2 separate regions of the Homo sapiens genome follow, and region 2 is linked to region 1. Evidence: fine-mapped expression QTL. A gene starts in region 1. The other region holds a variant in brackets. All regions are shown on one strand. Distances are from middle to middle. Region 1 holds the start of GALNT7-DT (GALNT7 divergent transcript). Region 2 overlaps GALNT7 (polypeptide N-acetylgalactosaminyltransferase 7).

The links. PIP is the estimated chance that this variant, and not a neighbour inherited with it, causes the effect.
Region 2: its variant is the best candidate, but not a certain one, in a credible set for the expression of GALNT7-DT in iPS cells (PhLiPS, PIP 0.84).

Annotation. Positions count from the first base shown.
Region 1 is chr4:173,167,274-173,172,647 of GRCh38, forward strand. It overlaps GALNT7-DT (GALNT7 divergent transcript), which reads right to left and starts at 2,379. Exons shown (of 7, transcript NR_134242.1): 1 at 1,591-2,379; 2 at 689-840. It overlaps GALNT7 (polypeptide N-acetylgalactosaminyltransferase 7), which reads left to right and starts at 1,538. Exons shown (of 12, transcript NM_017423.3): 1 at 1,538-1,688. The coding sequence starts at 1,563. RefSeq lists an enhancer at 807-906 and silencers at 1,217-1,266, 1,337-1,456, 1,687-2,916.
Region 2 is chr4:173,295,810-173,301,183 of GRCh38, forward strand. It overlaps GALNT7 (polypeptide N-acetylgalactosaminyltransferase 7), which reads left to right. Exons shown (of 12, transcript NM_017423.3): 5 at 1-34; 6 at 2,306-2,488. Among named protein-coding and RNA genes, the nearest start is that of MIR548T, 30 kb to the left of the region's middle. The variant A/T (reference allele first, on the strand shown) is at 2,330.

The sequences.
Region 1 (5,374 bases):
TCTTAAAACTTAGGATAGCCTAGGTGTGGTGGCTCACAGCTGTAATCCTAGCACTTTGGGAGTACGAGGCAGATTGCCTGAGCTCAGGAGTTCGAGACCAGCCTGGGCAACACCGTGAAACCTCGTCTCTACTAAAATACAAAAAAAAAAAAAATTAGCTGGGCGTGGCGGTGTGCACTTGTAGTCCCAGCTACGGGGGAGGCTGAGGCAGGAGAATTGCTTGAACCCGAGAGGTGGAGGTTGAGGTGAGCCAAGATCGCACCACTGCACTCTACTCCAGCCTGGGTGACAGAGTGAGAGACTCCGTCTCAAAAAAAAAAAAAAAAAAAAAAAAAAAAAAAAAAAAAAAAGAAAAGAAAAAAAACCCCAAAAAACTTAGGATAAAATCTTAAAACGTTTTGTTCGACTTAAATTTAAATTAGCAGTTTAGGATATAGTACACTGATAATGTAATTACATACATTCTGCTATAAAGGCATAGACATCTTTATTGGGAGATATGGGCAGAAAAATTATTTCCTCAGGGTGGGGCATTTGGCTAAACACTTGCCAATATCCTTTACTGTGTAATTTAGGTAACACAGGCAGAAAAGGCGTTTGAAAAGCAGAAATCAAGTGGCAAATATCAGATCTGAGGGACGCAATGAGGGTGGAGTTGAAATCCGTGGTCCTTGGATTTGAAACTTACCAGCCCGTGAACAAGGTTGGTATTGCTTTTGGCATAAGACGACAGCCTTTCTTTTCATTAGCTCAGGAGGAATACTGGCTTTCCAAGTGAGCTCCTCCAATCCAGTGATATTTGCACATCTCACCTGGGCCTTTCGGTTACAAATTCACCACCTTAAGGAGCCGTGTGAAAAAGCAAGAACAATCAATAAGAAGGAAAAAAAAAAACCCTTCAGCTATAAATCAGCCACGTGGAGCTGCTGCAGCAGCAGCGGTAGTCCCACTTCCTGGTTGGCTTCCTGAAAGCCTCTCGACAAGGGGCTCAGGGAAGTGGGTCTAAGGGAGAGGTGCAGACGAGAGCGACTCCAGGTCCAACGGAGGGGGCGGCGGGCCACGGGATCCCGGAGGGCACAGGCGTTAAGGACGGAGTTATTGTCCATAATTACAATAAAAGTTTGGGGATCTGAAAGCTTTAAGGAGCTGAGCTGCAGGGCAAAGGCTAAGAACCGGACTCGGGAAAAGTGCAAGTTAGTTACAAGGTAGCAGGGACTGTGAAGGGGGCTCGCGTGGAGAGCAGGGGACTGCGGATCTGGAAGGGGGCAGGTAGAGAGGAAGGCAGCCTGGCAGAGCGAGGCACACGGGTCAGTCGGAGCTCTGCGGTGGCCGCCAGAGGGGAGGGGGCCACGGGGAGGAGCGGAGGGAAGAGCCCGGGGAAAGGTGTAGCCGAGGGGAGTTCCGGATCTGGAGCTGGAAAGGGCAGGCAGCGGAGAGGGCGGCAGCCGTAGCGGTAGGGGTGGGGGAAAGAGGGGGAGGAGAGCCGGAGGAGGGGGAAGGAGGGAGGGGAGAGCGGTGGCGGCGGCTGCGCCGGGCTGTGAGTCTCTCGCCGCCGGAGGAAGATGAGGCTGAAGATTGGGTTCATCTTACGCAGTTTGCTGGTGGTGGGAAGCTTCCTGGGGCTAGTGGTCCTCTGGTCTTCCCTGACCCCGCGGCCGGACGACCCAAGCCCGCTGAGCAGGATGAGGGTGAGTGACCCGCCCGGCCCCCTCCGGCGGCAGCGACCGGCAACTTGTTTTGTTTGCCCGCGTGTGGAGGGAGCAGGGGCGGCGGGGTCGCGGCACGGCGTGGGCACCGCAGCTCCGCAGGTGGTGCTGGCGCAGCGCGGGCCGAGGGGGTGCCGAGCCCCGCGCACTCCGACCTCCCTGGCCGCCGCCGGCCCGCCCCCTCGCCGCCCCTTCCTCCGCTCTTCCCCGCCCCGGGCTCCGTCGCCGACACCCGCGCTGCCGCGGCAGCGGCTCGGGCGGCCGCTCTCCGCGCCGGGACTGCGGGCGGAGCGGGCGGAGAGCCGGGTCCGGGGGGCTGCGGCCGCCCGGCGTCCCGCTCTGGGGGGCCGGGACCGCAGCGCTCACGGCCCGGGGACGCGGGGTTGGTCCAGGCTGCGGCCTGTGGCGCGTGCAGGCCTGAAGGAGGCGAGATGCCGATGCCGCCACCGCTGGTCCGGTGGACCAGGCCCCTTGGTCCAGCCTCCCCTCCCGCAGCCGCCCGTCTGGGGGTGTTCGCAGCCCCGGGCTCCCCCGGCCCGCCCGCCGGGGAGTGGGAGGGCGATGGCGCCCCGCCTCCGGCTCTTACGGAGAGCGCGCCTCCCCCTCAACTCCGGCGGCGGGGAGCCGGGGTGCGATGCGCGGCCGAGGCCTCGCCCGGACCGCCGGTCCCCCTCGCGTCCCTGGGCGAGGGAGGGGCGGTTGGCCGGAGATGGCGGAGGGGCGTCCCCGCCCCGCCTGCCCGCCGCCCCCAGCCCTCAGCGCCTGGGGAAGCCCCTGCTGTGGCAGTGCTCGGGCGCTATCCGGGGGAAGAGGAGCAGTTCCTCTTCCTTGGCTGCGGCAGGGCTGCTTGGGCCGGAAAACTAACTTGTGTCGGCGCCCGGCCGCCCCGCGCCGGCTGCCGGCTAGCTCAGGCCGACGCCGAGGGGAGCGGCGGCGCGGAGCTCGCGGCGGCTCCGCTGGGACGCATTTGTCTGCCGCCCAGGGCGCGAGTGTTAGCGCTGACATTCCTTGGATTTGGAGGGTTTAGTCAGGCGCCTCGGAACATTAGTTACCCGGAGCCGCGCCGCGCGGGGAAGGGACCGCGGGCACTGCGGCTTCCCTGACCCGGCAGCGGGCGGCGCGCACCGGCCTCGCCCCCGACCCTGACCTGCTTCCCCCCGGATGAACCGTTGCACCACCTGCTTCCTCCTCCCCGCTGGGACAGCCAACTGGGCCGGCTGCCAGTGGGGGTAGGAGAGGGTATGAGGGGCTCACGACCGCCGAGGCGGCGGGGCTGCAGGAGGAGTCGAGTCGCTCTCTCTGTTGTAAAGTGCTTTTTGCAAGTGTGATGAGCATCGCTTCTATGTCATGTTTATTTAACTTTCCTTCTGGAAAGTTAGCATCAAGAAGTTGGGCAAAAAGGCTTGTGGCGTCCTTTCAAGAGTAAGAATCCTAGGAGGAGATCCCATTATCAGCTCTTCGCCTATATCATGAGATTAGATGTAATCTGGAAGTTTTAGTATTTGAAGTCTCTACAGCAGTGGAATCCCTTTGTAATATCTGGGATAGATTCCCATCTAAGTCATCTAAATTGATGGTAATAAAAAGTATCAGTTTTCCTTTTCAGTACATTTGCGGTTTTAAGCTTCTCAGCTCATGGAGTGATGGTGATCTTTTTATAATTTTGCTCTCAATATGACTTATTGACAAAGGATAACTGAATATTGCAATTGAGGATATTTGTTTTAAGTCATCAAATGGCTTTTTACATGTAGCTAGAAATGTTTAACCCCCTATTTTCTGGTAGAGAAACTGACGAAAAACTGACAAAACTAGCTAGGTTCAGAATGTCCCGCCCTTCTGATGATCTTTTAAAGAGGTGGCGGAACATCAGCATCACTTGCCAACTCGTGGAATATTTTATTAGTGCAAACAAAGGATGGGCCATAATGCCCATTTCAGTACTATATGGTGATGATAAAGAAGGTGATGATATCTTGATTTTTTGTTTGTTTCAGTGTACTTGATAAAGTTTCTCAGTGGATCCAGTGTAATTTCTGTCATTTGTCAAAAACAAAAGGTAGATTTTAAAGACTTAACATAATTAACATTAAGAGGAATGCTTAGGTATCAGAAGAGCAAGAAAGACCCTTTTATTGGCTTCCCAGGTAAATAGTAATACAAGCAATTTAAAGTGTAGCTTATAAATAATAAGAGCATAAATAAGGGATTATTGCCTTCCTTTAATAAAGACTAACCTAGGAGCTTTTAAGGTACAGTGCTAGAAGGACAAATCCTGTAGGGAGGATTCTGACTCCTGAGTTTCTCCTCCCCCTTGTGGTTCTTTTACTTCGATGACTATTGCATATATTCCACCCATGGTGAGATCTCTGCTTCTCTTTAATGCTGATCTACACATGGACTTTTTTGGATCCCTTTAAATAGCCTGAACGATCCAGTTTACCAGGTATGGGTTCTGCCTCTACTCCAGCAAGCTTGTACCTGTGGCTCCATTCACCCTGTGCCACTTTTTGTCTTGAACTATGAATATGTCATACACTAAATTCTGTTACAGCCTTGACAACTTGGGATGGTCCTTTCTCATCTGCACTATTTCCTTGTTTTAGGTCTGTCCACCTGTGGAGTCAAGACAAAAGAAACATGTTTCTTATTTCCTTCCCATCTCTGGGCCTCTTGCCCTTTCTCTGAAGTGAATGATGTGAAAAATGACCTTACATTTCCGATCATATTCTGTTGTGTGATTTTAAATATTGATTTATTTGAACATTTTTGAGTGCCAATTATATACCAGGCATGGTACTAGTTGTTAAGGAAATACTCCTTGTCCTTAATCTCATGGATCTTGTAAAAACCACACAGCAATCAAACCTCGATAAATATATAAATAAAAATTGTGCTACTGCTTTCATAGTGAAAACCATAGGGGGCAAGAAAATGGAGGAATTTGGTCATAAAAGCCTTACTTGAAGAAATGACTATTAGCAGTAGCAAATCCACACAGGTCTGAAGCAACTCGATTCTTACCTCCTGTGGGAAAGAATTTATTGGAGGGGCATAAGGCAGAGTGAGAGACCGAGGCAAATTTTTGAGCAGGAGTGAGAGTATTAAAAAGCTTTAGAGCAGGAACGGAAGGAAGTACACTTTGAAGAAGGCCATGTGGGCTACTTGAGAAATCCAAGTACCTCGTCTGACCCTGGACTTGGGGTTTTATACATTGGCATGATTCCAGGGTTTGCGTTTCTTCTCCCGTGATTCTTCCCTTGGGGTGGGCTGTCTGCATGCGCAGTGGCCTGCCAGCAGCGGGGAGGGGCTGCCTGCAGTGTGTTTACTGAAGTTTTACTCATGCTCACTTGAGGCATTTTTCCCTTACAATTTGAGCCTTCCTAGAGGAAGGGCATATACTAGTTAAAAGCTGCCATTTTGCCTATTAGTGCACATGCTGGAGCCCACTTGCCCAACTCCTGAGATCTTAGTGGGAACCTGCTGATAACCAGCTTTAGGTGTTTTCTATCTAATGGGAGACTGCCTTTCCATGGTGTTGGCGCGACCAATTATTATTTCAGAGAGACAGTTTAACAACGGCCTGACCATCACCTGATGGCCGCCTGACATTCCTGGTGGTGGGGGGCCTTTCCTGCCCTGCTCATGTCTGCCTAGCTGCCTACTCT
Region 2 (5,374 bases), 130 kb after region 1:
ATGCACCACTTGTAGCTCCCATATCTAAGGACAGGTAACATTACCTTGCTTTTTTTCTTTCCTGGTTGAAAGTAAACCTTGTCCTAGAAGGGCAAATAATATTTTCATCCTTTGATTCCAGCTCCATTCAGTGCATCGAGTGTGCTTTAGTGTTATCCCTCATCTATTTGTTTCCTTGGGTGGAGCTAGACTGATACTGTGGACTGATTTAAATGTAGGCAGTCTGGCATTTGGGAGAAACCTAGGGTTCCTCACTCAAGAATCATTTTGTGGTTGGGTTATTAAGACCCCTCTATCTCCAGGCACTTTCTCTAAGAGTTATATGAATTGCTCCCTCTAAACTGGGGTGAGAGTTCTAAACACTTGAGGAACCATGCTTTGATATTATACCTGTTGATTTTTGTGCCTTTTAAATTAGTACTTTCAATAGTAAAGACCAGGTGTTACTTGTGTCAAGGTTTTGGGTTCCTATAGAAACTTTAAAGTTTAGAAATAGACAACTATTCCATGGAATTGTGACAATCACCATTAAATTTCCAGAAATGTCTAAAACAACATAAGGCACCATCAGTTTTCTATCTCCAAAAGCCTTCCTTGCTTCTAGTCCATAATTAGGAAAATAAAACACGTCCATGTGGCAAATGGCAAATGGCATGAATCAAAGGCAGAACTTTGGAGGATTTAATCATGAGAGGATTTAATGTGAAGGCCGAACATGAACATTTTTCACATGCTGTCTGATTTAATCCTCACAGCAACCCTGCAAGATAGAGATTATTAGCCCCATTTGACTGAAGAGGATACTGAGGCTTAGAGAAATTAAGTAATTTTCCCCAAATCAGAGAGCTAATAAACTGTCAGACCAAGGCCTCCCTGGGAAAGTTTACACTGCACCATGTATTTAGGAATGTGAAAATCATAAGTGAGGACAGTTAACTGACCAAGTGTCAGGTAACTTTCTCTAGGTGAATACCAGCAGGCTTCTGGGCAGTGAGGAAGTGGTTTTCCAGATTCCAGTGGCAGATTCCACAAATCTGACAATGACCCTCCAGTTCACACTCTGGAGAGAAGGAAGCATCTTTCTGGACTTTACTTCCTCCATATTAAAGTTCTAAGCACTGTAGGTTTTCCCTTTTCCTTGGTTTTTAAACTTCTGAAAAGCAGCTTGACCTGGATATAAAAAGCTGTCATTTTCATTTTAGGAAAATAGATTTTAAAATCCTTTCTGACGAGATGAACATTGTAACAAGCAGGGTACCAGATAATCTTTGTAATGTCACTTTGACATCTAATTGGTTATAGAGTACTAGCATTTTCGTGAAGCCCAAATATAAGAGATTTTTTGATCCAAATTCTCAGACCACTTCTGAAGTTCTTCAGCAAGTTTTGAGGGATTTTTTTTGCTTTTTTTTTTTAAAGCAACAATACCTTTTTTTTTTGTTTGTTTTGCAATAAAAGCTGTTTTCTGCAGTTAGAGGAGTGAGGAAGATCAAGTAAAAGTACAGAAACACATTTTCATAACTGTTCCCAAGAAATAGCAACAAAGGGTTGAGAGAACCGCTAAGAATGTGGCAAGTACTATCTGTGACCCCACACACACGCACACGCATGCACACGCACACGTGAGCTTTTTCATGGGTGATAGGGAAAATAACAGGCAAGAAAATCTTATAAATAAGGTAAAATTACCAAAAGAAAGTTGCCTTTAGGACCAAAGCGAAAAGGAGAAAACTCTATTAAGCTCAGTGATATAGTTCTTTGTCCCTGACATTTGTCTGTAAGCCTAGGGGGAAGTCTCCTCTCTCCTGCCCTTACGTAAACAGGCTTTTCGGCTTTTATGGGACATTCATTTACTCTATTTCCCATTAGATATTAAAGTCCCCTAGTGCACAAACAAATCAACAACAAAAAGAGATAACGTAGTTAGGCATGCTGAACTAGTCTTGGGTTCTTAAATGCTTTTTCATTTTCTGTAAATGTTTCAGAACTACATGTACTGTGCCTCTAATAGATTACATAGATGGGAATGATTATTCCATTGAACCACAGCAAGGTGGGGATGAAGATGGTTTTGCCAGAGGGGCCTGGGACTGGAGTTTACTATGGAAACGTATTCCTCTAAGCCACAAGGAAAAGGCCAAAAGAAAACATAAAACTGAACCTTATCGGTAAAGACTATTACTTTATTTTCTTATGTTGAATGTTTATCTAAGTTCTTTTTTTTTTCTTCCCCATGAACTCGTATAAATGTGTGGGTCCATACATACGCTTCCATTTGATCTTTGCTGCCATCAACACAATACAGAACCATTTGCACTGTGCCGCTTAT[A/T]GATGTCATAAATGGCAACACATATGAAATTATACCCCAAGGGGGTGGTGATGAAGATGGGTATGCCCGAGGAGCATGGGATTGGAGTATGCTCTGGAAACGGGTGCCTCTGACCCCTCAAGAGAAGAGACTGAGAAAGACAAAAACTGAACCGTATCGGTAATCACTAAATCACTTACATATTTTTCTTTTCTCCAGTTGCTGCTAACCTATTAACCTCTTGCCAAGCTAAAGATTCGTTATTAAAACTGTAGATGTTGTCTCAGATTCTGAAAGAACATCTTTCCTTACACTGTTTCAGAGCTTTCAATCTGCTCCATTTGCTCCATTGTAATTGCTTTTACCCTAAATGTGATGTCCACTACTGAGACGTACACACTTTCATTGGGGAAAGAAAAATAATGTAACATGGCATTTGTTCCACGTACAAGTGAAAAAAAGATAAAATCTTAGTTATCCTGTCCTACTGGATTAGACATCAAATTTTATTCTTTTGATGACAGTGTCATTCTATAAATTTAAAATACATAAATTACTTTAATCCAACCAAGACTTTTATTTCCACGTTCATGCCGTGGGTATAATGTTAACAATGAAGGGCACTAGCAAGAGATTTCTGGGTTTTTCTCCCCTTTTGCTGTTATGTTAACTCTCAAATACTAATTTTGTACTAGTTAAATCTGATGAATCACAATACATGACTTTAAAAAATGTTACATAGAATCCTTTATTGCTTCATTCTCAGAAAAGTGATTGATTAAAAGAAAACTCTATTCAAAAATCAGCTTTTGTCCCTTCTTGTGGTTCTTTCAGTAGAACAACTTATGCTACTCTCTTCTTTTGATCTTGTAATTAGAACATTTTACTGTCTCTGTAAAAAGTGACCCCAAATGAAATGTTTGCTCAAGTGTTAGTATAGCCTTCTCCTGAATGTGTCTAATCTTATTTTTCTGATCCTATGGTTCTGCTTTTGGTCTCTCTCTCCCTGTTACACTGCTGGTGATGTTAGAACTCTGTTTTGGGAAGGTGCTTCCAATGTTATGGAAACGCTGTGGGATTTGGGCATGTCATGATATCAAGATACTGAATGGCAAACATAAAGAAGTTATAGCACTTAATTAATCATAGTAGCTTAATTGGACATTTACCAAATTTTTTTTGGTAAATTTCTTATTCAGAATAGTCCAGGAATCAACTGCTTACGTGCTTAACTTAACAAATAACTGTGGGAGAAAAAAAATAAAGGGTGCTGAGCAAATTTATATTTCTGTTAATTCCATAGGCCAGTAAAGAAAATTTTTAAAGTGACCTAGAAAAATTAAAGGGAGGTTATCTGTTGATTAACTCACTGGTGACCATGTTAAGATGCATTTTCAAGTATATACTGAGATGAATGGGAACATATTTGAAGAAAAATAAACCCAGCTGCCGGGCAAGGTGGCTCACACCTGTAATCCCAGCACTTTGGGAGGCCGAGGCAGGCGGATCACCAGAGGTCAGGAGTTCGAGATCAACCTTGCTAACATGGTGAAACCCCATTTCTACTAAATATACAAAATTAGCTGGGCGTGGTGGTGTGTGCCTGTAATCCCAGCTACTTGGGAGGCTGAGGCAGGAGAATCGCTTGAACCTGGGAGGTGGAGGTTACAGTGAGTCAGGATCACGCCATTGCACTCCAGCCTGGGCAACAGAGTAAGACTTGGTCTCAAAAACAAAAAAAAAAAGACACAGCTATAACGGAATAATCTTAAATGACAGTTAAATAAAGGTGACATGAAAATATCACCTAAAATGTAATAGTGTTGTTACTGTGTTAGGCAGCATATTTTAAGAAGAAAAAGCATGAGAGAACAACTTTTTTCTGATGCTATTTTCTTCTAGTATTGAAAATATTTCTTGATTCATTATCCACTCAACAAACGTTTATTGAATGCTTACTGTATGCCAAGCACTGTTTTCTGGGGATACATTTTTAAAGATATGTTTCCTCATTGAATTTAAAATACAGTGAATCAGACAGAAATTAAACAGATAACTGCATAAATAACCCTAAAATTAGCCTGGTGTGGTGGCACGTGCCTGTAGTCCCAGCAACTCAGGAGACTGAGGCAGAGGGATTGCTTGAGCCCAGGAGTTCAAGGCTTCAGTGAACAATGATTGTGCCACTGTACTGCAGCCTGGGCAACAGAGTGAGACCCTGTCTCACAAAACAAACAAAACTCTGGAACAGCAGCTGTGATAAGTAGTATGAAGAAAAATCACAGAGTACATGAGTTTATGGAAAGATGAACCTAATCCAGCTTGGGAGATCAGGAAAGGCCCTTCTGACAAAGTGTCATTTAGGCTGAGACCTGAAGGATGAGGGACCAATTCTGTGGAAAAGGAGAAGGAACATTTCAGGATCGTGAATAACATGAATGAAGGCCTTAAGACAGAAAGGAGGCTGGCACGTTCCCGGTGGGAGCAGAGCCGTGAAGGACTCAACGGGAAGAGAGTCCATGGTGAGCCCAGAGAGCCGGGAGAGGCTGGTATCATGCAGGCGCATGTGGAGGAGTCTGCTCTGGCCCCTGTGTGATTAGCCTTGAGCAGGGGGCAGAAGACAATAAAGGACACAAGCTCGGGAGATATTGGAAAGTCCAAGCAGTGTTGGCCTGGTCTAGGCTGGTGGCAGTGAAGTTGGAAATAAGTCAGCAGATTCAAGATGTATTTTCAAGGCTGGGTGCAGTGGCTCATGCCTATAATCCTAGCACTTAGGGAGGCCTAGGCAGGTGGAACTTTTGAGCCCAGGAGTTCTAGACCAGTCTGAGCAACATGGCGAAACCCCATCTCTACAAAATACATAAAAAGGTAGCTGGATGTGTTGGTGTGCGCTTGTAGTCCCAGCTACTCAGGAGGCTGAGGTGGGAGGACTGCTTGAGCCCAGAAGGTCAAGACTGCAGTGAGCCGCAATCATGCCACTGTACTCCAGGCTGGGCCATAGAGTGAGACTATGTCTCAAAAAAAAAAGATTTTTTTTTCAAGGTAGAATCAATGGAACCTTGAAAT